7 linked regions of the Homo sapiens genome follow. The protein of the gene in region 5 purifies or fractionates together with the protein of the main gene of each other region. This does not show direct contact. Each region holds a gene or a part of one and is shown on either strand. Other genes may lie near its edges.

What was found.
Region 1: the proteins of MTMR14 (region 5) and SCO2 purify together in Homo sapiens (affinity purification with mass spectrometry, with the first as the bait; 2 studies listed by BioGRID). This does not show direct contact.
Region 2: the proteins of MTMR14 (region 5) and FN3K purify together in Homo sapiens (affinity purification with mass spectrometry, with the first as the bait; one large-scale study listed by BioGRID). This does not show direct contact.
Region 3: the proteins of MTMR14 (region 5) and FARSB purify together in Homo sapiens (affinity purification with mass spectrometry, with the first as the bait; one large-scale study listed by BioGRID). This does not show direct contact.
Region 4: the proteins of MTMR14 (region 5) and BSPRY purify together in Homo sapiens (affinity purification with mass spectrometry, with the first as the bait; one large-scale study listed by BioGRID). This does not show direct contact.
Region 6: the proteins of MTMR14 (region 5) and ACSL3 purify together in Homo sapiens (affinity purification with mass spectrometry; one large-scale study listed by BioGRID and IntAct). This does not show direct contact.
Region 7: the proteins of MTMR14 (region 5) and BPIFB1 purify together in Homo sapiens (affinity purification with mass spectrometry, with the first as the bait; one large-scale study listed by BioGRID). This does not show direct contact.

The regions. Positions count from the first base shown.
Region 1 is NC_000022.11:50,523,068-50,526,973, reverse strand, and holds SCO2 (protein SCO2 homolog, mitochondrial precursor), read left to right. Parts: upstream 1-1,375; 5' UTR 1,376-1,502; exon of another isoform or gene 1,503-1,532; intron 1,533-2,193; exon of another isoform or gene 2,194-2,549; 5' UTR 2,550-2,562; coding exon 2,563-3,363; 3' UTR 3,364-3,406; downstream 3,407-3,906. Other genes in the region: TYMP (thymidine phosphorylase), read left to right, coding at 236-398, 498-728, 818-973, 1,056-1,204; NCAPH2 (condensin-2 complex subunit H2), read right to left, coding at 3,599-3,739, 3,808-3,906. UniProt on the Homo sapiens protein: Copper metallochaperone essential for the synthesis and maturation of cytochrome c oxidase subunit II (MT-CO2/COX2) by facilitating the incorporation of copper into the Cu(A) site of MT-CO2/COX2.
Region 2 is NC_000017.11:82,734,385-82,738,414, forward strand, and holds the start of FN3K (fructosamine-3-kinase), read left to right. Parts: upstream 1-1,230; 5' UTR 1,231-1,252; coding exon 1,253-1,393; intron 1,394-4,030. UniProt on the Homo sapiens protein: Fructosamine-3-kinase involved in protein deglycation by mediating phosphorylation of fructoselysine residues on glycated proteins, to generate fructoselysine-3 phosphate.
Region 3 is NC_000002.12:222,642,593-222,646,092, reverse strand, and holds part of FARSB (phenylalanine--tRNA ligase beta subunit), read left to right. Parts: exon of another isoform or gene 1-471; intron 472-1,171; exon of another isoform or gene 1,172-1,208; intron 1,209-3,087; coding exon 3,088-3,242; intron 3,243-3,500.
Region 4 is NC_000009.12:113,352,541-113,356,040, forward strand, and holds part of BSPRY (B box and SPRY domain-containing protein), read left to right. Parts: intron 1-1,699; coding exon 1,700-1,798; intron 1,799-3,500. UniProt on the Homo sapiens protein: May regulate epithelial calcium transport by inhibiting TRPV5 activity.
Region 5 is NC_000003.12:9,698,005-9,701,504, forward strand, and holds part of MTMR14 (phosphatidylinositol-3,5-bisphosphate 3-phosphatase MTMR14), read left to right. Parts: exon of another isoform or gene 1-206; intron 207-331; exon of another isoform or gene 332-2,488; intron 2,489-3,500. UniProt on the Homo sapiens protein: Lipid phosphatase that specifically dephosphorylates the D-3 position of phosphatidylinositol 3-phosphate and phosphatidylinositol 3,5-bisphosphate, generating phosphatidylinositol and phosphatidylinositol 5-phosphate.
Region 6 is NC_000002.12:222,920,036-222,923,535, reverse strand, and holds part of ACSL3 (fatty acid CoA ligase Acsl3), read right to left. Parts: intron 2,257-3,500; coding exon 2,106-2,256; intron 829-2,105; coding exon 705-828; intron 459-704; coding exon 387-458; intron 1-386. UniProt on the Homo sapiens protein: Acyl-CoA synthetases (ACSL) activates long-chain fatty acids for both synthesis of cellular lipids, and degradation via beta-oxidation.
Region 7 is NC_000020.11:33,296,714-33,300,213, reverse strand, and holds part of BPIFB1 (BPI fold-containing family B member 1 precursor), read right to left. Parts: intron 2,690-3,500; coding exon 2,626-2,689; intron 2,098-2,625; exon of another isoform or gene 1,370-2,097; intron 1,144-1,369; exon of another isoform or gene 361-1,143; intron 316-360; coding exon 230-315; intron 1-229. UniProt on the Homo sapiens protein: May play a role in innate immunity in mouth, nose and lungs. Binds bacterial lipopolysaccharide (LPS) and modulates the cellular responses to LPS.

The sequences.
Region 1 (3,906 bases), on a different chromosome or scaffold from region 5:
GGCCTGGACCTGGGGAAGCCCTCTGTGGCGTTCCTGCCCCAGACCAAGTACAAGTTCCTCCTGGCCCCATGGCGAGGTGTCGCACTTCACTCGTGTCTCTTCCCCACCCCAATCCTTCCCTGACTTCATGCTGGGGGGCTGGCAACCCAGGGTGCAGCAGGGGCTGGAGTTCGACCAAGAACCGGCTGCAGAAGGCCCCGCCATGGGGGGTCCACGCTGAGCCTCCTCTCCGCAGGTTGGCGTGGGAGCCAGCCTAGGGCTTCGGGTCGCGGCAGCGCTGACCGCCATGGACAAGCCCCTGGGTCGCTGCGTGGGCCACGCCCTGGAGGTGGAGGAGGCGCTGCTCTGCATGGACGGCGCAGGCCCGCCAGACTTAAGGGACCTGGTCACCACGCTCGGTGAGGGGGACGGGGTGTAGGGGAGCGGAGGCGGCGGGGGGTGCTTCCCGCTGGGGCCGCCCCGACCCGGCCGCGCCTAAGACCCGTCCCCGCCCGCAGGGGGCGCCCTGCTCTGGCTCAGCGGACACGCGGGGACTCAGGCCCAGGGCGCTGCCCGGGTGGCCGCGGCGCTGGACGACGGCTCGGCCCTTGGCCGCTTCGAGCGGATGCTGGCGGCGCAGGGCGTGGATCCCGGTCTGGCCCGAGCCCTGTGCTCGGGAAGTCCCGCAGAACGCCGGCAGCTGCTGCCTCGCGCCCGGGAGCAGGAGGAGCTGCTGGCGCCCGCAGATGGTGAGCGTCGGGGGAGTCCCCGTCCTTCCGCCTCCGCCATCCCCTTCCCTTCCCGAGGCCCCGCCCCTTCCCGAGCCCGCGCCTCTCAGCCCCTCTCCCCGCAGGCACCGTGGAGCTGGTCCGGGCGCTGCCGCTGGCGCTGGTGCTGCACGAGCTCGGGGCCGGGCGCAGCCGCGCTGGGGAGCCGCTCCGCCTGGGGGTGGGCGCAGAGCTGCTGGTCGACGTGGGTCAGAGGCTGCGCCGTGGTGAGCGCCGCCCCCGCCCTGCTGGCCCCGCACCCCCGCCCAGCTCCGGCCGCGCGGCCTCTAACAGCCCCTCGCTCTGCAGGGACCCCCTGGCTCCGCGTGCACCGGGACGGCCCCGCGCTCAGCGGCCCGCAGAGCCGCGCCCTGCAGGAGGCGCTCGTACTCTCCGACCGCGCGCCATTCGCCGCCCCCTCGCCCTTCGCAGAGCTCGTTCTGCCGCCGCAGCAATAAAGCTCCTTTGCCGCGAAACCTTGTCAGTGCTTGGGCGGGAGCGGAAGGATCCAGGGCTGCGGAGGCGGGGGCCGTCTCGATGAACACGTGACCCCCGGCGGGCTCCGCCTTCCGCGCACGCGCTGAGAGCCTGTCAGCGGCTGCGCCCGTGTGCGCATGCGCAGCTCCGGGGACGCCTGCGCCCTGCCTGTGAGCGTGTGGCGCCCGCTTTCCCTGAGCCGGCGGGGCAGAGCGCAGGGAGCTGGAGGTCGGCGCTTCCTCTCGTGCTTGGTCCACTGACGCGCGGCCCCGCCGCGAGGTGCGGACGCCGGGGCTGGGAGGGGAGGAGGTAGCCCTGAGGACTCGCTGGACTCCGGGGTAGTTTCCCAGCTCCGGCTACTGCGCGGGGCTGGCGGGGCACACCCCAGGGCGCGCTGGAGGCCGGAGCGAGGCTGGGGCGCCCGTGGGAGGCTCCCAGCAGGCACCGGTGTTCTCGCGGCCAAGCACAGTTATAACGCGCTCGCGCGGCGCTTCGAGTGGTCCTGGAACCTTTCTGGCCACGAGGGCGCTGGCCTTGCTGGGGAGGGCACAAACCCAGAACCGCCCGGGCGGGGGTGCAGTGAGTCCTCGGGAGGGTGCCCTCAGCAGGAGGGGGCAGTGACCGGGAGTCCTGAGACCTCCACCTAGCAAACCTTCTGCGGGGGCCCGTGGGAAAGGCTCAAAGGTCACCAACGCAAAGGCAGGGCGTCGGCTGTGAGCCCGGAGGAGCTGCTGGGAAGCCTGGATGTGAGGAGGGTGGGGTTTTGTGGCGGGTGGAAGTGTCGTGCGTCTCTGCCAGGAGAGGTTAAACACAGCCGGCGGGCAGAGTCTGAGCTCCGGGGGTAGGTCGTGCAGGTTTTCTGCTGGGAGTGTGGAGGAAGGCCGCGGTTGGTTGAAGTGGCTGGAGGTAACAGGAAAGTGTTGGAGGAATCGGTTGCTCTCGGGGATTGCAAGCCAGAGAGTTACCCACCTCCTTTTAAGAAATGGGTTTATTGCAAATAGATAACGTGGTTAGTTCAGGCAAGGCATGCACTTGGAATGCTTTCCGTCAGCAAGAGGTTCACCTTGCTGAGGTGCAGGTGCAGGGCAGGGTGCGGTGACAGGCTGGTGATCCCAGGTAGAGGACAGGAGTGACAGGTGTGGTTGCCCAGGTGTGGATGTTTGGTGGAGGTGGAGTTCTGAGCTCAGGTGAGCAGCTGCAAATGCCTGTTAAGCCTGAACGTGGGCTGGGTCCTTCAGATGGGTGGCTGGTCTCAAGTCGCAGGGGCAGCCCAGGCACTGTCCTGGGCCTTCCCTTCTGGCTCCTGACGCCTGTGCTTGTTTCCAGGAGCATCAGATCCATGCTGCTGCTGACTCGGAGCCCCACAGCTTGGCACAGGCTCTCTCAGCTCAAGCCTCGGGTCCTCCCTGGGACCCTGGGAGGCCAGGCCCTGCATCTGAGGTCCTGGCTTTTGTCAAGGCAGGGCCCTGCAGAGACAGGTGGGCAGGGCCAGCCCCAGGGCCCTGGGCTTCGAACCCGGCTGCTGATCACAGGCCTGTTCGGGGCTGGACTCGGTGGGGCCTGGCTGGCCCTGAGGGCTGAGAAGGAGAGGCTGCAGCAGCAAAAGCGAACAGAAGCCCTGCGCCAGGCAGCTGTGGGCCAGGGCGACTTCCACCTGCTGGATCACAGAGGCCGGGCTCGCTGCAAGGCTGACTTCCGGGGCCAGTGGGTGCTGATGTACTTTGGCTTCACTCACTGCCCTGACATCTGCCCAGACGAGCTGGAGAAGCTGGTGCAGGTGGTGCGGCAGCTGGAAGCAGAGCCTGGTTTGCCTCCAGTGCAGCCTGTCTTCATCACTGTGGACCCCGAGCGGGACGACGTTGAAGCCATGGCCCGCTACGTCCAGGACTTCCACCCAAGACTGTTGGGTCTGACCGGCTCCACCAAACAGGTTGCCCAGGCTAGTCACAGTTACCGCGTGTACTACAATGCAGGCCCCAAGGATGAGGACCAGGACTACATCGTGGACCACTCCATTGCCATCTACCTGCTCAACCCTGACGGCCTCTTCACGGATTACTACGGCCGGAGCAGATCGGCTGAGCAGATCTCAGACAGTGTGCGGCGGCACATGGCGGCTTTCCGCAGTGTCCTGTCTTGAGCCACTGCAGTCTGGGCCCCATCATTAAACGGGCTGCGTTTAATCTGTGTGTGTGTGTGATCTGTACCAGCGGCCCAGGGAGGCCAGGCAGCCCTCTTCTCTGCGCAGGTGTACATAAAAGGGTTTTTAGGGGGAAGATGAGATGGCAACACTGCTTTATTAGGCCGGGCCAGCCAGGAGCAGACACACGGCTCCTCAGTACACATTCCCCCACCCCTGCCTCGGTGCTCCCCACTCAGGGCTGGGCCATGGAGGGGGCAGCGTAGGTCTGGAAGCGCTTGTGCGCTCGCTGGTGCGTGAGCAGTCTCAGGGACATGGTGTCCACGGCCATCTCCAGCCCGGGCTGCTGGGTTATCTCCACTGTGTAGTCATTGGCCTGCAGGGGTGGCACATCAGCAGGGTCTGGGGACCGTCTCCCCCTCCCACGTATCCCAGGCTACTCACCAGCTGCAGGGAGGCCAGCATGGAACGACACACCTCGAAGGCCGGCTGGCCAGCCACCAGCTCCGCAAAGGGACACCACTCATTGAGCTGGGGGAACCG
Region 2 (4,030 bases), on a different chromosome or scaffold from region 5:
CGCTAAGCCCAGGTTCCAGTGATCCTGGCCGAGGTGCCAGATGTAGGAGTTAAGGAGCCTCCCGATGACCCCAGCCCAGCTGAGCAAGTGGGCAGGACCGCGGGGATAGGCAGCTCCCAAAGGCTCCCTCCCCGCGGCAGGACCCCTGCATCTCTGTGGGAAAAGACAATTGTTGGGGCCCTAAAAAAAACAGATTTATTGATTAAAACCTCATGCATGGCCGGGCGTGGTGGTTCACGGCTGTAATCCCAGCACTTTGGGAGGCTGAGGCACGCAGGTCACCTGGCCAACATGGGGAAACCCCATGTCTACTAAAACTACAAAATGTAGCTGGGCAGGCCGGGCCGGTGGCTTGACGCCTGTAATCCCAGCACTTTGGGAGGCCGAGCGGGTGGATCACGAGGTTAGGAGATTGAGACCATCCTGGCTCACAGGGTGAAACCCTGTCTCCACTAAAACATACAAAAATATTAGCCGGGCGTGGTGGCGGGCGCCTGTAGTCCCAGCTACTCGGGAGGCTGAGGCAGGAGAATGGCTTGAACCCGGGAGGCGGAGCTTGCAGTGAGCCGAGATCGCGCCACTGCACTGCAGCCTGGGAGACAGAGACTCCATCTCTTAAAAACACAAAAAACAAACAATAAAAAAACCTCACGTCAAATGACTTCAGCACGGACTGGGCTCAGGTGCGCACCTGCTCGTGTGCACGCGTGTGTACCCACGTGTATGCATGCATGGGCGCGCGTGGGCATTCCTGTGTCTCAAGTCCCTTTCCCAGGACATCCTGGAATCAGCAGCCCCACCCTGGGCCGGGTCAGCGCGTGCCATCGGAGCCCCCACGTCAGCCTCTCTCTCCGATCGGCACCTGGCGTCCCAGTGCGCAAGCCCCACGTCATCACGGGGGCCGCTGGGCCCGGCCTGGTCTGCAGTGTGGGAAGCCGGCCAGGCCTGTGACCAGCGCCCGGGCCGAGGGCCGGACCTGCGTCCGCTGCGGGGCAGGGATACCGGGTCCCTGCAGGGAGCTCAAGCCCCAGCGCGCCCGCGAAGAGCTGCGCGGACTCCCGGCTGCTTCCCCCGAATCCCGGGCGCAGGAAGCGCGAAGCCGGACGAACGCGGGGAGCGCGCGGCGAGCCCGCCTGAGGCCGCCCCTCCCGCCGCCCGGGGTCACGCGCCGCGCGCTCCCGCCCCGCCCCGCCCCGCAGCGCCTCAGCCGACAGGGGCTTCCGAGCGAGCAGAGTCCCGCGCCCCGCACTCCATGGAGCAGCTGCTGCGCGCCGAGCTGCGCACCGCGACCCTGCGGGCCTTCGGCGGCCCCGGCGCCGGCTGCATCAGCGAGGGCCGAGCCTACGACACGGACGCAGGCCCAGTGTTCGTCAAAGTCAACCGCAGGACGCAGGTGCTGGCCCGTGCGCAGGCGGGGGCTCTGCGGGTCTCTGCGGGGCCTGGGAAGGCGGAGGGGTCGGGGGCAGGCGCATTTCCTGGGGCTGGGCCTGGGGAGGGGTCAGCTTTGGCCCTTGGGAGGTGGCACCTGCTGGGTGAGCCCGGCTCAAGCGTTCTGTGAAGGTTTGTGTCTGCACGATCCGTGACCTTCCTTTGGCCTCCATGCGCAGCGCACAGGCTTCTAGGGGTGGTTTTAACTTTCCTATCCAGCAAGCGTCGGGGGATGTGAGGCTTGGGGTCCTTGGCTCAGCTCTGGGCCGCCCCTCTCAGCCCACCGTCCTCCTGGCAGTGGGAAAGAAGCAGAGACATGGCTGGGCCCCTGGCAGGGACCCCACGGGCCAGGCCAGCGTTCTCCTTCCCACAGGCCTTGTCTGTGTTTAGACCTGATTTCTATCTCCTGCTGAAAATAGTTCTGTTTAAGAATGTATGGAAGGCCGGGCGCGGTGGTTCACACCTGTAATCCCATCACTTTGGGAGGCCGAGGTGAGTGGATCCCTGAGGTCAGGAGTTCGAGACCATCCTGGCCAACATGGTGAAACCCCGTCTCTACCAAAAAATGCAATAATTAGCCGGATGTGGTGCCACTGGCCTGTAATCCCAGCTACTCGGGAGGCTGAGGCAGGAGAATTGCTTGAACCCAGGAGATGGAGGTTGCAGTGAGCCAAGATCGCGCCATTGCACTCCAGCCTGGGCAACAAGAGGGAAACTCCGTCTCAAAAAAAAAAAAGTATGGAAAATGTTAACGGAGGAAGTGGAGAAGGTTAGCTTCAGCCTTGAGAGCCGGCAGGTGGAGAAAGGCAGGCCTGGGTGCCCTCCCGGCCCGAGTGGGCTCAGAAGGCCCTGCACACTCTGGTGGGGGAGCTCTCTGAGGGGCAGCAGGGGTCCTGGTGGGGAGTGCTGGCAGGAGGAACACCAGAGCCATGCAGCCTGGGCGTGCGATCGGATCCTCCGGCATCACCTGCTCTGCCGGCTCAGAACCAAATCCCTCAAAGTGGGGAGTCCTACTCACAGGGAAGCAGTTTTTGGTTCAGGCTTCCCACGGGCTCTGGGAAACTTCCTCAGCTGGTCCTGAAAGCTCTGCAGGGTGAGACCCCTCCTTCCCTCCCACCCCCACGAGGGGCCGGCACATAGTAGCTGCTCAGTCCATGCATAAGAGCAGGTGATGCTGGGGCCCCTGGGGCTTAGCAGCCCCAAGGCCGGGAGTTCCTGGCCTGGTGCATGGGGGGCTCGCCCTGGAGCAGGGCTGGGGTGTGCCGGCCGCCCTCCCACCTGTGGACACTCACACCCACCCTCGGTGCAGGCTGGCCAGGGCTGCCAGGCTGGGGAGGCTGTGCCTGGGCTTTCCCTGGGGTACTTTGAAGGAAAGGGCGTTCTGTTCGTGTGCACCAGCAGATGCTTTGGTCTCATTCATGAGGTTTGATTTTTTTAAACATGCAGTCCTACACTTTGGGCGACTGAGGAAAGGTGGATCACTTGAGGCCAGGAGTTTGAGACCAGCCTGGCCATCATGGTGAAATTCCATCTCTTTTTTTTTGAGACGGACTCTTGCTCTGTCGCCCAGGCTGGATCTCGGCTCACTGCAAGCTGCGCCTCCCGGTTCACTCCATTCTCCTGCCTCAGCCTCCCGAGTAGCTGGGACTACAGGTGCCCGCCACCTTGCCTGGCTAATTTTTTGTATTTTTAGTAGAGACGAGGTTTCACCGTGTTAGCCAGGATGGTCTCAATCTCCTGACCTTGTGATCCGCCCACCCCGGCCTCCCAAAGTGCTGGGATTACAGGTGCGAGCCACCACGCACGGCGGTGGAACTCCATCTCTAGTAAAAATACAGAAAAACACAGCGGGGTGGGGTGGCCCACACCTGTAATCCCAGCTACTCAGGAGGCCGAAGCAGGAGAATCGTTTGAACCCAGGAGGCGGAGGCTGCCGTGAGCCGAGATCATGCCACTGCCCTCCAGCCTGGGTGACAGAGTGAGACCCTGTCTCAAAACAAACATGCAATTCTATAGGCCAAGGTATTCATGGACCACGTTCGTCAATGCATGTTTTCAACCAATGTGTACTGTACGTGAGGTGAGTGTTCACCTAACTGAAAACTGGAATGTTTGTGGGAATATTTCAGAAACAGGAAGGCCCAGGTCCCACGGGAGGCGTTGGGGGCCGGCCGGGTGTGCCGTGCCTTTTACCTTCCCAGCCCCTGCCCTGGACCTGAGGCCCCGCCTGATGGGCCCAGCCCTCTTCTTCCCTGCCTGACGTGTGTGCCCAAGTTAGCTCCAGTGAGGCCTCTGCTGTGGCTGCCCCACCCTAAGAGGCAGCAAGGAAGGTGGGTAGCCCGGGGGTCCAGCTCTGGACCTTGGTTCACTCACACCTCCCCACGCCCTCAGTGCTCCCGGGCACCCACACGTGGCCTGTGCATCCTCCTGTCACAGCAGCCTGCAGACCCCACACCCCTCACGGCCCAGGCTCAGCCTCAGCCTTGCAGCCTCTCGTCTCCGACGGGGGGCCCCTCTGCACCCTGCCCTCTGTGGTGGACGCCAGCTCCCAGCCAGAGCCAGCTATCAGTGAATGAAGGTCCTTGTGACTCCCACGTGGTAG
Region 3 (3,500 bases), on a different chromosome or scaffold from region 5:
ACACCTAGTAAGATTGGCATTTTTTTAGACTGTGAAATGAATGAGGTTTCCTTTTATAATTTGAATGATAGATCTCTTCTCTGTACTTTTAATGATGATTTTACAGGAGAACTTTGGCCTTATTTTTATACTGGAACTGACTCAAAACCTCTTAAAATTTCTACAGTAACAGATTCTGTATTTTCTTTCACCTAGTAGACATAACTGAGCCAGTTAATCTAGTTTTGGCCATTCTGTATTTTGTCCAGTTTTTCTCATAAAAAAACAATATTTTTTATCTCAATTTCAGCAACTTCCAAAAAATGTGATTATGGGACCTACTTTATAATAAATTATGGGGTCAATGACAAAGTACTTTAGAAATTCTATGGTAAAATACTTGAAAAATATATTACTGAAGGAACGTATTATGTAAGAAAATCTATTACTTTTGTAATTGCCAATAAAAGCCCAATTTTTTTCTCAAAAAAAAAAAAAGACATACTTTAATTTAAAAGATAATTTTCTGATAGTTAGTATTATTTTTTTCCTAAGCCTTCTATCTTCACCTATTCAGTGCTTTTATAACACTACCTTAGGTGTAAAGTTAAAAAATGTTCAGGCTAAAAAATTGTACATTATCTTACCTTATTTTTCCTGCTGCCTTACTAATGTTACAGAAAGATCATCTTTGTACTAATCTATTTGTATACTTGAGAAATTGGCTGAGATTTCTGTAGTTTATAAGTTGCTATTCGTAATTTTACTACACCTCAGAATTATGTTTGAAATTATGTGATATCTAAGAGTGTTGGACTGGATGTTAGATTATTTGAGTTCTAGTTCTAACATTTACTAGCTGTGTAACTATGGACAATTACTTTGCCTGTCTGAACTCTATAGTCCAGACGAGTCTCTCTGGGCCTCCTTTTCATTTGTGAAATAAGGGGTTTGGATTATATGATCTTTATGGTTTTCTTTTTTGACTCTGAAATTTATGTGATTTTAAATTTCTGTAAGATTATTGTCAGGTAGCACTGACAAATTCAGTCTTTACATATGGTCATTGTATGAGCTGAGATGCTGAAACTGAAAGAAGATGTAAGCTTCTGTGTCTTTTTTTTTTTTTGCAAAGGAATTAGATCTTTTTTTACAGTAGTTCCTCCTTATCCACAGTTTTTTGCCTCCACAGTTTTGGTTACCTGCAGCAAACTGTGGTTTGAAAATAGGTGAGTATAGTACAATAAGAAATTCTGAGACAGAAAGAGACTACATTCACATTACTCTTATTATAGTATATTATTTTAATTGTTCTATTTTATTATTAGTTGTTAATCTCTTACTGTGCCTAATTTATAAATTAAACTTTTTCATAGGTATGTATGTATAGGAAGAAACATGGTATATGTAACATTTAGTCCTATCCAATGTTTCAGGCATCCACTGGGGAGCTTGAAACATATCCCCTGTGGATAAGGGGGTGCTGCTGAAAAATGAATGCAGATGCCTTCATTTCTCCGGTTATTATATTATCTTCTCTGTATATAGGTCCCTCCTGAGATCTGCCATCTCCTGGGAGGTGACTCAGCTTTCTTCACTATTGAAACAGTAATTTTATTAACCCCTTTGATTGAACATTGTTTAAACTCGAATTCTTCCTCTTCTCTTTTTGCCTCTCCCCATTCCCCTTCTTTTCTTTTCCCCCTTTTTACTCCTTCCTCCTCCTCTTCATTCTCTTGTTTTTCATTTTTCATTTTCCCTAATTATAAAAATTTGCCTCCTAAGTTTGAGATGCCCAAGGTAGAGGTTTTTTGGAGCCCAGCACCACCTTGTACAGCCCCAGCATTGCATAGACTCCTGTGGTTCCTCAGGTGGGACTTTGGCACATAATACTCGTGGCCAGAAGTGAATTTCTCTGCATATTGTGCAAATGTGGATATAATTCTTAATTTGGACAAAAATTTGAACTACTTATATTGTGGCAGTGGGAGGGCATCATGTAAAACAAAAATCATTACATATTTTGATAGAAATCCATCAGTTATTTTAGCAGGTTGTTGGTGGTGGAAATAGTAGGAATTCTGGTTAAGTGGAGTTTCCACATAATTAAAGCGTAACATTAACAGTTGGAATACAACTTGTAATCATTTCAAGTGAAAATTTCTTAAATATATTTACAGTTCCCTGCTGTAGTAAACATAAGGAATAGAGTGTAACTTCTCTGCAGTGGTTATGTTTAAGAAAATCTGTTACTCTGCTGTAGTGTGGTGCTTGAGATATTCTAAACTCTTTGCCACTGCATTAAACGTGATTCTAGTGGTGTTTCTTCTGTCATCTCCCTCTTGGCTGCCTTCATTCTGCTGCACTATCCCTTTGCTATCACTAGTTTGCTTCCCATTGTACCTATTATCCCTTCTAATTTTTACCAGTGTCTGATGGTCTCTGACTGTTTTTAGTTTTTATACTACCCCTCTCATTCTCATGTGGACTTGGGTGCCCACAGGATTTAGGTTTTAGAGTCATCCTATAAGAAGTTGTGTTTCTTTTATTTAGTGAATCATCTTTCTTTTACCCCTTTGACACTTTTGTTGTTGTTACTTTATGTTCTTGGTGATGTTTTAATTTTCTTTTAGCTTGAGATGGGAAAACTTTTTCTGTAAAGGGCCAGATAGTAAATATTTAGGCTTTTTGGCTCTATAGTCTCTGTTACAACTCAGCTATTGCAGTGTGTAAGTAGCAGTAGATAATATGTAAATGAATGGGTCTGTCTGTGTTCCAATAAATCTTTATTTACAAAAACAAGTATCAGGTATGATTTGGCCAGGGGGCTATTGCTTGCTGACCCTTGTTTAGATGGATTTGTGCTTTTCTGGGGTGATTGAGGTTGCCAGATATCTGAACTCAGTTAAAGCTGAAGTATTTTTCTGTCTGCTATGATTATAACACTTAATATTTTCATGTTGTTTTTGTCGTGGATATAATAATCCCATGTTCTTGTTATAGAAAATATGTATAATGTAGTTACTGCCTTATAGGGCTGACAACTTTTACTTTTTAAAGAGAGTTTAAATTATTTAATTTTTATCATTACTTTTTGGCTTGTTTTAGACATCTGAGAAGGAAATAATAAGTAAAGAACAAGGTAATGTAAAGGCAGCAGGAGCCTCTGATGTTGTTCTTTACAAAATTGACGTCCCTGCCAATAGATATGATCTCCTGTGTCTGGAAGGATTGGTTCGAGGACTTCAGGTCTTCAAAGAAAGGTAAGGAAATATGTTCCTTAAAGACTTTGCTAAGTTGGGTTTTCTTTTCTTTCCTTGTCATTATCAGCAGCCATGTTTAAATTTCTAGGAAAAAGCTTGTAGAGGAACGTAGCTTTAGCTCTCAATAGAGGGTTGATTTGAGGAATTAGATTCATGCAGATTGTAGCCATTTGAAAATTTCCATGAAAATTTTAGTCATAGCCATTCATCTTTGAGAACATATTTTAAAACTGGTGTTTAATGCTTTTATGGCGTCTT
Region 4 (3,500 bases), on a different chromosome or scaffold from region 5:
AAGTCAGGACAAGTTTGGTACATTTAAGGAACAGAAAGAAGGCCAGCATGGATAGAGGTAGAAAGTGATGTTGGAGAAATAAGCTGAGTCACATCAGGTGGGGCTAGGTTGGCTAAGCTAAGAAGCCTGATGTCATTGTGAGTGTACTGAAAGCCATTGGAGGGTTTTGAGTAGGGGCATGACCTGGTCTGATTTCCTTACAAAAGGTGGCTCTGGCTAGCTGGGGGGTTGGGGGTGCAGGGTACCCAGTTAAGAGGTTCTAACAGTGGTTCCTGTGAGAGATCATGGCAACCTGGATAGAATAACTGGAGTAGAGGTGACCAGAGGAGAGAGAGAGACTTTGGAGATGGGGTTGATAGGACTCACTAATGGAATTGATGTGGGGTTGGAGACAAACTCCTGGGTTTTTGGTCTGGGTAACAGGTGAATGATTGATGGTGCTGCTTAATGAATGAGGATAACTTGGCAGAGAGCAGTTCTGGACAGAACAGAAGGTATGGACAGTCAGGCAGCTGAGTATGACGGAGGACCAAGAGTGTGTGCGCCAGAAAGTGGTTATAACGGGCTGAGCGTGGTGGCTCACACCTGTAACATCCCAGCACTTTGGGGGGCTGAGGCGGGAGGATTGCTTGAGCCCAGGAGTTGGAGACCAACCTATGCAACATGGCAAAAGTCCATCTCTACAAAAAATGCAAAAAGTAGCCAGGTGTGGTGGCACGTGCCTGTAGTTCTAGCTACTCAGGAAGGACATGGGAGGATCACTTGAGCCTGGAAGGTCAAGGCTGCAGTGAGTCTTGATCATGCCACTGCACTCAGCCTGGACGACAAGCAAGACTCTATCTCAAAATAAATACATAAATAAATTTAAAAAGAAACAAACGCCTGGGTGCGGTGGCTCACACCTGTAATCCCAGCACTTTGAGAGGTCAGGGCGGGCAGATCACCTGAGGTCTGGAGTTCGAAACCAGCCTGGCCAACATGGTGAAACCCTGTCTCTACTAAAAATACAAAAATTAGCTGGGTGTGGTGACACACACCTGTAATCCCAGCTACTTGGGAGGCTGAAGCAGGAGAATCGCTTGAACCTGGGAGGTGGAAGTTGCAGTGAGCCGAGATCGCACCACTGCACTCCAGCCTGGGCAACCGAGTGAGACTCTGCCTCAAAAAATAAATAAATAAAAAAAAATAAAAATAAACACAAGACAAAATGGACTTTAAGGCAAACATAGTACTAAAGATAAAGTCACTTAGAGAATGTGCAGTTCACCAGCAACATATAATGATTCTAATCTTAAATGTTTCTAAATAATATAGCCTGAGAATATTCATAGAGCAAAAATTTGTTTTAAAGTTATTATAATGATAGGCTGGGGTTCTGGGATGAAGACGGAGGTGAGGTCACAGAAGGGGATGATGGACAGTGAAAGGTAGTCCCACTAGTGTGTTGGTGGCCTCAACTGAGCTGTTGCTGGAATAGGTATCCTAGAATTAGGGAGTGAGAAGGATAGGGCATGGTGGGGAGAGTGTGGATCCTTGAAATGGAGATTTAGGAGGTGGTACAGTTTTTGATAATGATGAGATCTGGGCTATGACCATGGGAGTGGGTGGCTGACATGTGGTAACAGGAGAAAATCACTGGGATGGAGTGAATGGCTCAGGTACATGGACCAAGATGCCACAAGCGTTGTTTGTGTTGCAGAACAAGATTGTGGACCAGTGTGAGAGGCTGCAGTTACAGAGTGCTGCCATCACCAAGTATGTGGCGGACGTCCTGCCGGGGAAGAATCAAAGAGCAGTGGTAATTCCTCTTCTTTCCTCTCTACTCAGCCCCCTCCCAGGATAAGGCCTTAGACTTAGGGACTTGGGCAAGTCTAGGGTCCCTTACCAACCTCACAGACTCATTGTGCTACTAGCAAAGCTTCTCATCCCTCAGAGACTCAATTTTACCATCTGGGCAGGGTGGGCTTGTTCCTGTACCATACTTGGTGCAAAGACTCTGCTAGCAAATGACTTTCTTGGGTATCTTGGCATAGGGGATCAAGAAGGGTCGTATTCTTCTACCATCTGGTCATTTTCTGCCCAGCTGCAGAATTATAAAATAACCTAGGACTTTTACATTGAATATTCTCTGTGACAATCTTATGAAGTAGATAGCAGTAACATCCCCATTTACAAATAGGAAAATGGGTCCTTATAGAGGTTAAAGAGGTTAACTGACCTGTCCAAGGACCCCATAGCCTCCTGGCAGTCGGTTCTGTGACCTGGATCTTCTGTCTCCTAGGCTAGTGCTCCTTCTGCTGCATCCCACTGCTGATTCTTTTTTTTAATTTTTTTTCTTTTTGAGATGGGGCCTCACTCTGTTGCCCAGGCTGGAGTGCAGTGGTGTGATCTTGGCCCACAGTAACCCCTGGTTCAAGCAATTCTCCTGCCTCAGCCTCCCAAAGTGCTGGGATTACAGATGCCTGCCACCATGAGTGGCTAACTTTGTAAATTTTTAGTAGAGACGGGGTTTTACCATATTGACCAGGCTGGTCTCGAACTCCTGGGCTTAAGCCAACCTCCCTCCTTGGCCTTCCAAAGTACTAGGATTACAGGTGTGAGCCGCCATGCCTGGCCTCCACTGCAGATTTTTTTATTCAGTGGACTCATTACCACTGCTGTGTCATCACTTTCAAGTATGCCTATCAGGGGCAGAGCCTATGAATTTCTTTCTGCATATCCCCTCCCTCCTTTCCCTATAGTACACGGAACAGACTTGGTACCACATTAGTCAGAGTTCTTTTAATTGCATGGAACAGAACCCAGTTGAACAAGTATAAGCAAAATGGGGCATTTCCTGACAGGACACTAGGGGTCCTCTTAGGACCTAAAAGGGGCTAGACCAGGAACCAGAAAGCTGCTAGGAGTCCAGGCAGCTACTTGGTGCCCATCTATGCTTTGCTTTTGCATGATGGTCTCCATCTCCCTCCCCTGCCCTCTTCCCCTCTTCTTCTTTATCCTTTTTATTTTCTTGTCTTACTGCACTGGTTATGACCTTAGTACTGTGTTAAATAGAAGCTAGTGTGGCAAATCCTGGCTTTTTTTTTTTTTTGAGACAGAGTTTCACTCTTGTTGCTCAGACTGGAGTGCAATGGCGCGATCTCGGCTCACTGAAACCTCCGTCTCCTGGGTTCGAGCGATTCTCCTGCTTCAGCCTCCCGTGTAGCTGGGATTACAAGCGCCCACCACGACACCCAGCTAATTTTTTGTATTTTTAGTAGAGATGGAGTTTCACCATGTTGGCCAGGCTGTTCTTGAACTCCTGACCTTAGGTGATCTGCCCACCTCGGCCTCCCAAAGTGCTGGGATTACAGGCGTGAGCCACTGTGCCTGGCCCGACAAATCCTGACTTTAAGAGGAAAGCTACCAATATTTCACCAGTTATTTATTTAACAAATCTTTATTGAGCACCTACCATGTGCCAGATACTGTTGTTCAATGGGTTAGGCATTCTCCAGTGA
Region 5 (3,500 bases):
GACCCGAGGTATGAAGGAGGCCTGTGGCTGGTCAGGAAGTGCACTGGTTTGTGTGTTCACTCTGCAGCCTCTAAAACCCATCCACTGGTGTCTCAGGTGCACCCAAAGGGAAAGCTGCTGGACTGTAACTATAGAAGATTCTATTTCTGTATAAGCCTTTGCCTGACATGAGAATCGTTTGAAGGCAGAACAGTGGGATAGTGAAGGTAGGTGTATGGTGGAGGCCAGAGCCAGAGTGGTGCTGGGTTAGCCCGAAGCTTTGCTCCTGAGCAGAACCTAGGGTTACTTGCTGTCTCTACCCGCCTTGTCTTCTGTTTTTGCCTCTGGGCAGGAATAAGAATTGGATGGGGATTCTAGATCCCACACCTACAAAACCCTGAGTTTCCAGCCCTTAACAGTGTGTCCACCTGACTGGAGCAGCTGCCTCTGGGGAAACCACCTGCCCCTGGCCTGTTCTGCCGCTTCATGGATGTCAGGCAGGAGAAAGCCTCTGGTGGCCAGGGGAGCAAGCCCTGCTCCTCAGCTGTGGTGCCTGAGGGCCTCTCAGCAAGCCTTCCATACCATGGGCTGGATGAATGGCACATGCTGGGGCCTTACCACCAGCACCGCAATCCAGCTCATCCCCCCACCCCTGTTGGCAGGTGGGAGGCAGGGTGCCTTGGGGAGTTGGGAAGGGAAAGGGGGCCCTGGATCCTAGCTGAGGGCAGTCAGGAGCCAGTCAGACCTTGAAATTCCAGGATGGCACAGGTCCTGGCTCTGCAGCTGTGAAGTCATCAAAGAGCTTCTGAGGTCACTGTGCCTGGCACAGCCTCCTCTGCAGCCAGCCCCTAGGCTAGAAACAAGATCTTAGATGTTCGAAGGCTTAAAAAAAAAAAAATTGCAGGCCGGGCATGGTGGCTCACGCCTGTAGTCCCAGCACTTAGGGAGGCCGAGGCGGGCGGATCACCTAAGGTTGGGAGTTCGAGACCAACCTGACCAACATGGAGAAACCCCGTCTCTACTAAAAATACAAAATTAGCTGGGCGAGGTGGTGAATGCCTATTAGTAATCCCAGCTACTCGGGAGGCTGAGGCAGGAGAATCGTTTGAACCTGGGAAGCGGAGGTTGCCGTGAGTCGAGATCATGCCATTGCACTCCAGCCTGGGCAACAAGAGCGAAACTCTCTCAAAAAAAAAAAAAAAAAATTGCACCTTTCTGTAAAGACTTCCTACTCCAGCCCCATTTGCCCAAGAGCCATCTCTGAAGGAAGCACAGATATCCCTGCTTGATAGCACTCCTCACTTACCTGGGGTTAGCCACTGAAACAGGCAACTCCAGCCCCAGATCACCCACCCTAGAACCTACAATTTAGGCCCCAGGCAGCACTCTAAGCTGCTAGCCAAGCCTTTAGTTCTGGGAGGTTCTCAGAGGAGGGCTGGATTCCGTATGATCTGAAGGCCTGCAAGACTGTGGGATGTGGTCAGAGTTGATTCCTGTGAAGCCGTGCAGCATGTGGGTTCAGCACTTGGGCTTTGTTATCAGAAAAACTTAAGGCCAAATCCTAGCTGCTCTATTCACCAGCTGTATCTTCAAGTGTCAGCCTTGCCTTTTCTGAGCCTGTTAGCTCATCTCTCAAGAAGGAATGGCACTGTAGTACCTCCCTTGCCTGGTGTGTGTCCTTAAATGGGTCACATAACCTCTCCTCTTTTCTCATCTCTCAGTAGGTGGTGGTCTCTGTCCCTTTCACCTCTCAGAAATGGGCAGCCATGTCAGGGGGGTGGGGCAGGGCAGTGAGAATGCTCATGTATGGATCTTTGGATGTTCCCTGTGAGTGTAAACTCTTGGTCTGTTTCTCCCTCGTATGCTATAAGGAGAAGCTAAGGCAAGCATGCATGGCCTTTGGCCTGTGTGAAATTAGAAAGTAAAAAGATCTCAGGCCATGCTTCTTCCCCAGTTGCCAGGAGAGACTTCAGGATTGTTGATGGTAGTACAGGAATCCAGTCTCAGCTCCATGTTCTTAGTGCTGCTGCAGGAGTGATTTGACTTTTCTTTGCCCCAGAGCCTACTGCTTCCATCTCTCACATTTCACTCCCACCGATCTGCTTTCCCTAGAGTCCTGTCTATCTCCCCCCATACTTACCTCAGGACTGTCATTTATCCTCAGACATCCCTCTGCTCCCACAAGCCCTGGGTACAAGTCATTGAGCCGTTGGGATTGGGTTCACTTCAGCTGCCTCTGACAGATTTCCAGGGAGGGACTGTCCAGGGATTGGTTTCTTGAGGGCAGATTTGGAGCAAGATTAGTAGGCATGGATGGTCTTAGTATTTAGGTGTATGGGAATGTGAGGGCTCTTCTCATGTAAGTCTGTGACCCCTAGAGAGGGCCCTCCAGGGACCCATTGGGGGAACACTATGTGAGTACCTGAACTTTGAGTCCAGAGTCCATGGGCCTCTTCTATTAAAGGCCCTTGGGGATGTCACACAGCCTCATGTGGAGTCATGCTTTGATAAGCCTGAGTTGTGCGCACTTGTTTCCCTTCTTGACTTGTAATTTCAGGGTAAGGAAAGAAGAGGGGCTTTCATCTGTGATCAGAGCCTACAGAGGCCAAGAGAGGAATGGGGAATAGAATCAGAACACAGATCTTTCTGGAAAAGCCAGCACCCTTTCAGCTGTTTACCTGGAAACCACAGTGACTGAAGGTGTAGCTAAAGCCCTAGAGGTTTCCAGTGGGGAACCCTGGCTTCAACCCAGCAGACAGTGGGTTCTTCCAGGGCAATAGCTTCCTCCTAAGATGCGTCATGTCTAGGCCTCAAGGCTGGGGCCTTTTTTTTCTTTTCTTTTTTTTTTTTTTTTAGACACAGTCTCACTCTGTTGCCCAGGCTGGAGTGCAGTGGTGCAGTCTGGCTCACTGTGACCTCTGCCTCCCGGGATCAAGTGATTCTCCTGCCTTCAGCCTCCCAAGTAGCTGGGATTACAGGCATATGCCACCATGTCCAGTGAATTTTTATATTTTCAGTAGAGACAGGGTTTTGCCATGTTGGCCAAGCTAGTCTCGAACTCCTGACCTGCCTCGGCCTCCCAAAGTGCTGGGATTACAGCCAAGGCTGAGGACTTTCAACAGCTGCAGCGTGCTGCCAGATTTCAGGGGCCTCCTTACTGTTAGGTATAAGACTTCATGCCTCAGCTTGCTCTTCCTGAGGAGTGGAAGCAGAGAGCTGCTGGGGCAAATTCCCTCCTGCTTAGCTACCCTCCTTCCCAGTGATCGCAAAGATAGTTATTTTCACAACAGGTCAGGTCAGGCCAGGCACAGTTGCTCACGCCTGTAATCCCAGTACTGTGGGACGCCAAGGCAGGCGGATCAGTTGAGTCCAGGAGTTTGAGACCAGCCTGGGCAACATGGTAAAACCCTATCATGGTGGCATGTGCCTGTAGTCCCAGCTACTTGAGGGGCTGAGGTGGGAGGATGGCTTGAGGCTACAGTGAGCGCTGATTGTGTCACTGCATTCCAGCCTGGGCAATA
Region 6 (3,500 bases), on a different chromosome or scaffold from region 5:
CCTGAGGACTCAGGAGGTAACTATACAGCTTGCTTAAAAGGAGGTGATCTCACACTTTCCCTCCTAGCTCTCAATAGGCTTCAAGTGTCAATGAATTCACCAACAGATATCATGAAAATAATTTTTATTTTAACAAGAAGGTATTTAGGCAAACAAGTTGATAATTACACACAGAAGCTGAAATTAAGTTGAGTGCTTAGTAAATAAGAAAGCAAGCTAAAACAAGACTGAAGAAATCCCATAGCGCCTAAGGCAATATTTATAATCAATAAGGAATAAATCCTACATAAACTACCTTGTCAACAATATATTTTTCACTAGCACTAATGCTTTGTAGCGGGTGATACTTCTTTAATACTCAATATTAAATAAGGGTCACTTCTTACCGGAACTGCTGCCATCAGTGTTGGTTTCAACATGGATGTATCCCCTTTGCTTCCTTTTTTAATTTTTGAAGACTACAAAATAAGAAAAAGTGATCCATATAAAGTGATCCTTATTTTTAAAATTCAATGGTATTCTTAGATCAAAAAGCCTATTATAAATTATTTTAATGTACTTACAGTCTAAGAAGCACTTAAAAGGCTAAAGCTCATTTTAAAATGAACCATCGCTCTCGCAATATACTGTCATACTGACTGAAAAAAATGCATTACAATTCACTATGATTTTTTAGTATTTCAAGTCACAGACACTGAACTTACCTGATCTGCTAAAGTCTGTGGTGAAGAGTAACCAATGCGGCATCCGTGAGAAAGACAGACAAGCTCAGCACTTAATTCTAGAACATGGGCCAGAGGCAAATATCCAATGTAGACATCTTCCTCTCTAAAAGAAAAGGGAGACGTCAGAAACAAAAGTCAGGTGTCGTCTATGCCAAAAGTGCCCTATAATGGGAGCAAGCTTGAAGGCACATGGAAGGGCCCCAGGGCATCAATTTGCTGGTCAAGTGTGTATGTGTTTGTGAGAGAGAGAGAGAGACAGGTGAAAACAGAGGATAGGCAGATGCTGGGGATGGGAGGGAAAAAGAATTACAGCTCAACCCAAAAGCAAGGAGGCGCACACTTGCAGGAAGGAATGCTGTTTCCCGTCCTACTTAAAAGCACTCAGGAATTATAAGCGTTGCTGAAGCAAAGTACTGAGGCACAAGAAACAGTGGCTTAAACAAATAATAATACAGGGTTCTTTTGAAGAACAGAAGAAATCATCCAAGGAGGAAATGGTCTTTACATCTAGTGGGTTGCCAACCAGAAGAGTTAAAGTAGAATCCACAACTATCTGCCAGAAATTTTACAGATAAGACTCTTGTTGTGGGAATTGGATTACATAATAAATTAGATCTTAATATACAGAAAATGTGTAAGTATTTGTATATACTTCAAGAGCTGCCCCCATAACCAAAATATAGAAGGTAACTGAGGCAAACCTGTAAGAAAATTGTTGCACTTAATTTTTTCTGAAATGTATGCATACGTAAGAGACATTCCTCCATCCCCAAGTTCAGTACCATAGCAATTACGTGAGTGTGTGTGTGCGTGTATGTTTGTAATTTCTGTGCATAAAAGCATCAAAAATATCCAACCACTGTACCCTATCGGTCATCAGAATACCAATTGCATCTCTGGCAATGTTTCCTTGACAGTCCCTCAAACTTCCATCTGGTTTCCTCCATCAGTCTCTTCCCCACTCCACTCTACCTTCCACTGCTACCACTGGAGTTTGTATTAACAAGAAAAATCAGAGACCAAATACTGAAGCTCAACAAATACTTAGTGGATAAATTAAGTTACCTGTTCACCTGAATTGTATTTAGATATAAAAAAAACTACAGCAGCAAATACAAGCTGATTAAAACAAAGGATTTACAACTATACAAATTTAAGTTCTGTACTTTTTAAAATATATCTATATGATATATTTTCAACCTCACAACTATAACTATTTTGCCATTAATTTTAATGTCCTTTTTTATTTTTTAAGGAAATGCCTACTACAAACAGACTCTGAGGGACTAATTTAGCCATATATTAATAAAATGACACAAATGCTAACATTATAACAGACATAAATACTTAACTACTCAATGTTACTTTACTATGACATACCCTAGTTCTGGAATCCTTTCTGCCATCCCAGTTATACCAGCAATAATGTTACTATGTGAGATCATGACTCCCTTTGGAAGTCCTGTGGATCCACTTGTGTACATGATTACTGCAATATCTGAGGGCAATGGTTTGCTATGAGGTTGGTTTTCTGCATTGAAGAGAAAAAACACACACATACACTTTCATGAGATTCAGCTGTATCAACAATTTCTTTTCATTATCATCAAATAAATAACTCAATCAAATTGAGTTAATTTAACTCAATTCAACAAATATTAGTTATACTGAGATCAACAAAACAGATCAAGTCCCTGCACGTATGGGAGATATATTCTATTGAGATATACAAACAGATTAACCTATGAAGAAAACTGAAGCAAGACAAGGTGAGAAGATGACAATAGATGCTATTTGGATGGAAAAGCCTGGAGACCGTCTCTGTAGAGTTTCGTTTAGCAAAGGCCTGAATAAAGTGAGGAAGGGAGCCATGGAAACCCTGGAACTGGGAGAAGAGTGTTCTAATTAGAAGGAAATAAGCAAATGCAAAGACCCAAAGGTAGGAATGTGCTCAGCATATCTAAAGACCAGCAAGGAGTGTGGCTGGAACAGAGTGAGCAAGAGGAAGAGTGGCAAGAAACAATAGTCAAGTGGCTATCAGGGACCACACATAGGACCTCAAAGGCCACGGGAAGAACTCTGGATTACGTTCTGGATGTAAAGCAATGTTGTTTTGAACAGGAGTATGTTATTATCTGTGAAAAAAAAGATCACTTTGGCTGCTGTGTGGCTAACTAACTTTACAAGGGGAAAAAAGGTATCAGGGAGACAAGATTATCCCAGTAATTCAACTAAGAAATAAAGGTAGCTTTGGACTAGAGTATCTAGGTGTTTGCTAAAAACTATTCACTGCTTCAGAATGGTGACTAACTTGGTTACACTCAGAGTCCTGCATTAAAACACGATGTGAACCATTTGAAATCAGAAGAGTACCAGCCTAAGGACAACAGCTGAGAAGCTATAGAGGTGGCACAGCAGAAGAACAAAGAGAAATAGGTCATGGTTGGCATTGCTGATATGTCTGAACCACTCCCAGAACTACTCTACATGTGAACTTCTAAATGAGTGTGAAAAAATTATTTAAATGTACTCCCAATAGAATACCCTTCCTCTCCTGTCAGTCAAGATACATTTCTTAAATAATGTTTACACTTGGAAGTCTTTACTTCCAAATCAGCCCTTCACTCCTTCAATGCACAGCACCCTTCTCCAACACCACCACTTCTTGGAAATTACAATCCTTGTGTCATCTGACCTCTGCATGCAGCCCCTGATCCTGCTGATGACTCACCAAGATCTCCTTTCCCTTGGCTTCCAGGAACCACATACTACTAG
Region 7 (3,500 bases), on a different chromosome or scaffold from region 5:
GGGCCCCCCCATGTCACTCTGGGTGACAGTGAGACTCAGTCTCAAAAAAACAAAACAAAACAAACTTGCATGGGACATATTCAGCCTGCAGTGATTTTTCTAGATCAGCCCGTGTCCTAATGGTGACCAGGATTTTCTCTCCTAACACAGGCCCATGCTATCTGACTCCTGGTGGTCAGAGAAGGGCAGCAATGTCCCCACTTCACCCTCAAGGTCCTGGGACACTCACCCCCAGGTAGAGCTGAATGGTGTCACCCTTGATGGCAGGATACAGAAGGTCAAACTCCAGACGGTCAATGCTGAGGGAAATGGGCACTGCTCAAGGACAAGAAGAAAGTTCTGTGAGGGTGGAGGGCAGTATTGGAGGGGGAAGTTGGGGGGCTGCTTCCAGGTGGAGCTGTACTGTTGCATGGGGGGGCAGGTAGGGAGGAGCAGGTAATAATGATGTTGATAATAATGATGCAAACAGTGATGACAGTGACATTTATCGAGCATCCACTAAGTGCCAGGCCTCTGCATGTCAGCTGGTTCATCTGCATGATAACGTTAGGAAGTAGGTCTTATTATTACCCCCTTTTACAGATGGTGAAACCAAGTCTGAGGAAAGGGAAATGACCTGTTCAAAGCCATACTATGAGAGCATGGGAACCCAGTCGGTTTTATGCCAAAGTCCCGGTTTGGAACGGAACTGAACTATTGTATGTAACACTCCACCGCCCCTACCAGACTGAAAGCCGCGTCCCCCATGCAGGTGGTTCTGGGTCTGGACACCCTATGAGCACCTGGATCTCAAGGAAGCTTAGGCTGGAAGCCAGAGGCCTGGTAACATCTACTCTGAAATCCAAACTGGCTCCTCTGCTCCCCCCAAAGATCTCGTGTTCGCGTCAGAATTCCCCACTTGGCCGCCAGGTGGCGGTGGTGTGTCACCTGCCCCGGTGTATGGCCGAGGATGGGGAGTGCTGGAGGGCCAGGGACCGGCCGCCTACCGCTCCAGGGAGACCTCCGGGCCCGTCCTCGGGGCAGCGGAGGAGCCAGCTGGACTTCGGTTTGAGCCCCAGTGACCTTGGCTGGTCTCTTCTCGCGTCTGAATCTGTTTCCTCGTCTTAAAATGAGGGTATAGTGCCCGCCAGGGCAGCACATGTACTAAAATCGGAAGGACATAGAGACGATGAGCATGACTCCTGTAAAAATTACTTTAAAAAAAGAAAAAAGGTCCGTCTCCAAAAAAAAAAAAAAAGTATATTAAAGTCAATAAGGTCCCCGAAAATGGCTATAACAACAACAAAAAAATGTGATTTACAAAGAGAAATCTACAGACTTGTCAACAAAATGTAATGTGTGAACTCTGGATCCTACTCTGAATACTGACCAAATATCTGACGATTGGAAGAACTCTTTGGGAATTAAAAAAAAAAAAAAGAAAAAAGGAAAGAAACGGCGGTAGAATAGTAATTCCTGCTTCATGTATACAACTGGCACCTAGTAACGGCTCAATCCGAATGACACTCGCTCAGAACTCAAGTCTTCCTCTATCACCAACTGCCTCTGTGAACTTGGACAGTGACTTCATTGCTCGGAGCCTCTTTCATCACAGTGAAGGGGGGTCATGACTGCCACCTCATGGAGTTGTCTGAGGAGTCAGTGAGATGTGCCTATACAAAACACCCAGCGGGAGGGCGTGGCCCATGGCAGATGCCCTGTGGCGCTCAGTGCATGCTGCTCTCCCTTCTCCTCTCTGGTCGCCCTTGGAATGAGCCTCTTCTGATCCCAAAGTGCAGTTGGTAGACTTTTCTTCTTCTCCGCCAGTTTCCACTCTGGGGGCCTGAGCATGGCAGAGTTCTGATGTGGGGGCAGGAGCCTGTGCCCTCCCGTATCTGCTATGCTGGGGGAGGGAGAAATGACTTCCTTCCGTCTTTGCCCTTCGAATCATCTCTGATTTTTATTTTTTAAACCAGATATCTCAGTTTTTAACCCATGCTTTAATTTCTCAGATACCTCAAACCCTTTGGATGGAGGGAAAATTTGAAACTGCAACGAGATGGATAGAACTATTTGATGCTGCAGTTTTCTAAAGTATCCATAAAAACTAGTCCGGGGGCTGCGTGTGATGGCTCATGCTTGTAATCTTAGCATCTTCTGTCTGTCCATCCATCCATCCATCCATCTATCCATCCATCCATTTAGCATGCATTTGTAAGTGCTTCTCTGTGCCAAGAGGGACACCTGCTATGTGCCCAGAACTTTCCTGTAGACTTTTATTCCTCACTAACAATCCTATGTTGTAGGGATGGTTAAGCCCCATTTTATGGATGAGGAAACCGAGGATGAGGAGGTAAATTAGCTTTCCCAAAGTCATGGAGCAAGTCAGGGGCAGAGCTGGGATTTGAACTTGGGGCATCCACTGACCTGACAACTGCACAAATAGTAAGAGCTCATGAAGTCCTAGTCGTGGCGAATTTCTGTCTGCGCGTCTGGGGCAGGGATCAACTGATGCTTGTCTCACCTGCTTCTGGGCCTGAGTTGCAGCTCAGGCCTGACTTGGGGAGGCCTTCCCTTGGTGGAGTCAGGGTCTGGAGGCCAGCTCCGTAGTAAAGGAAAAAGTGGGAGAGAGAGCAGAGCACCTACCCTTCACCAGCTGCAGGAGGTCTGCATACATGCCATTGAAGGAAGCCTCGATCACGGGACACAGCTGCAACAGCATAAGCAAGGGGCTCCATCAGGGAGGGGCCAGAATGCAGCCCCACAGCAGCCCCGGGCTGTGCCCAGCCCACCTGGCCTGTGTCCTACTGCTGTGCCCATGGCCAGCCAGGTTCCATCCATGGGTTGAGGATTCATTCGTGTGTTGAACCCAGCCTGCAGGGCCACCTGGGACCTTTTGCAGTGGTTTGTCCCTTTCCCTGTGCCCAGGGTGTGCTTGGCCTGCCAGCAGCCCTCCCTCTCTGACTCCTTGTCTTGCTCACAGGTGTCTATGTTTTCCATGAGAGTGAAATGGAGGCTGGGCGCAATGGCTCATGCCTGTAATCCCAGCACTTTGGGAAGCCAAGGTGGGTGGATCGCTTGAGGCCAGGAGTTTGAGACCAGCCTGGCCAGCATGGTGAAACCTCATCTCTACTAAAGATACAAAAAGCCAGGCATGGTGGTGCACTCCTGTAATCCAAGCTACTTGGTTGGCTGAAGCACAAGGATTGCTTGAACCTGGGAGGTGGAGGTTGCAGTGAGCTGGAATCGTGCTACTGCACTCCAGCCTGGGTGACAGAGCAAGACTCTACTTTAAAAGAAAAAACAAGAGTTAAATGGAGAATTTGTTTATTCATACAGCAAGTTGCTACTGAGTTCTTTTCACATGTCAGACTCTGGAACAGAGGCCAGCAAGGCAGACCCAACCAGACTCCTGGGCAATCTCTTTGTGCCCTTTGTGGCTTTCTAGCCCAACACATCCCTTTGCTCACTGGGCACTTCTCTTCCTAAAATTGCCAGCAGTCCTCAACAGGGGGAGATTT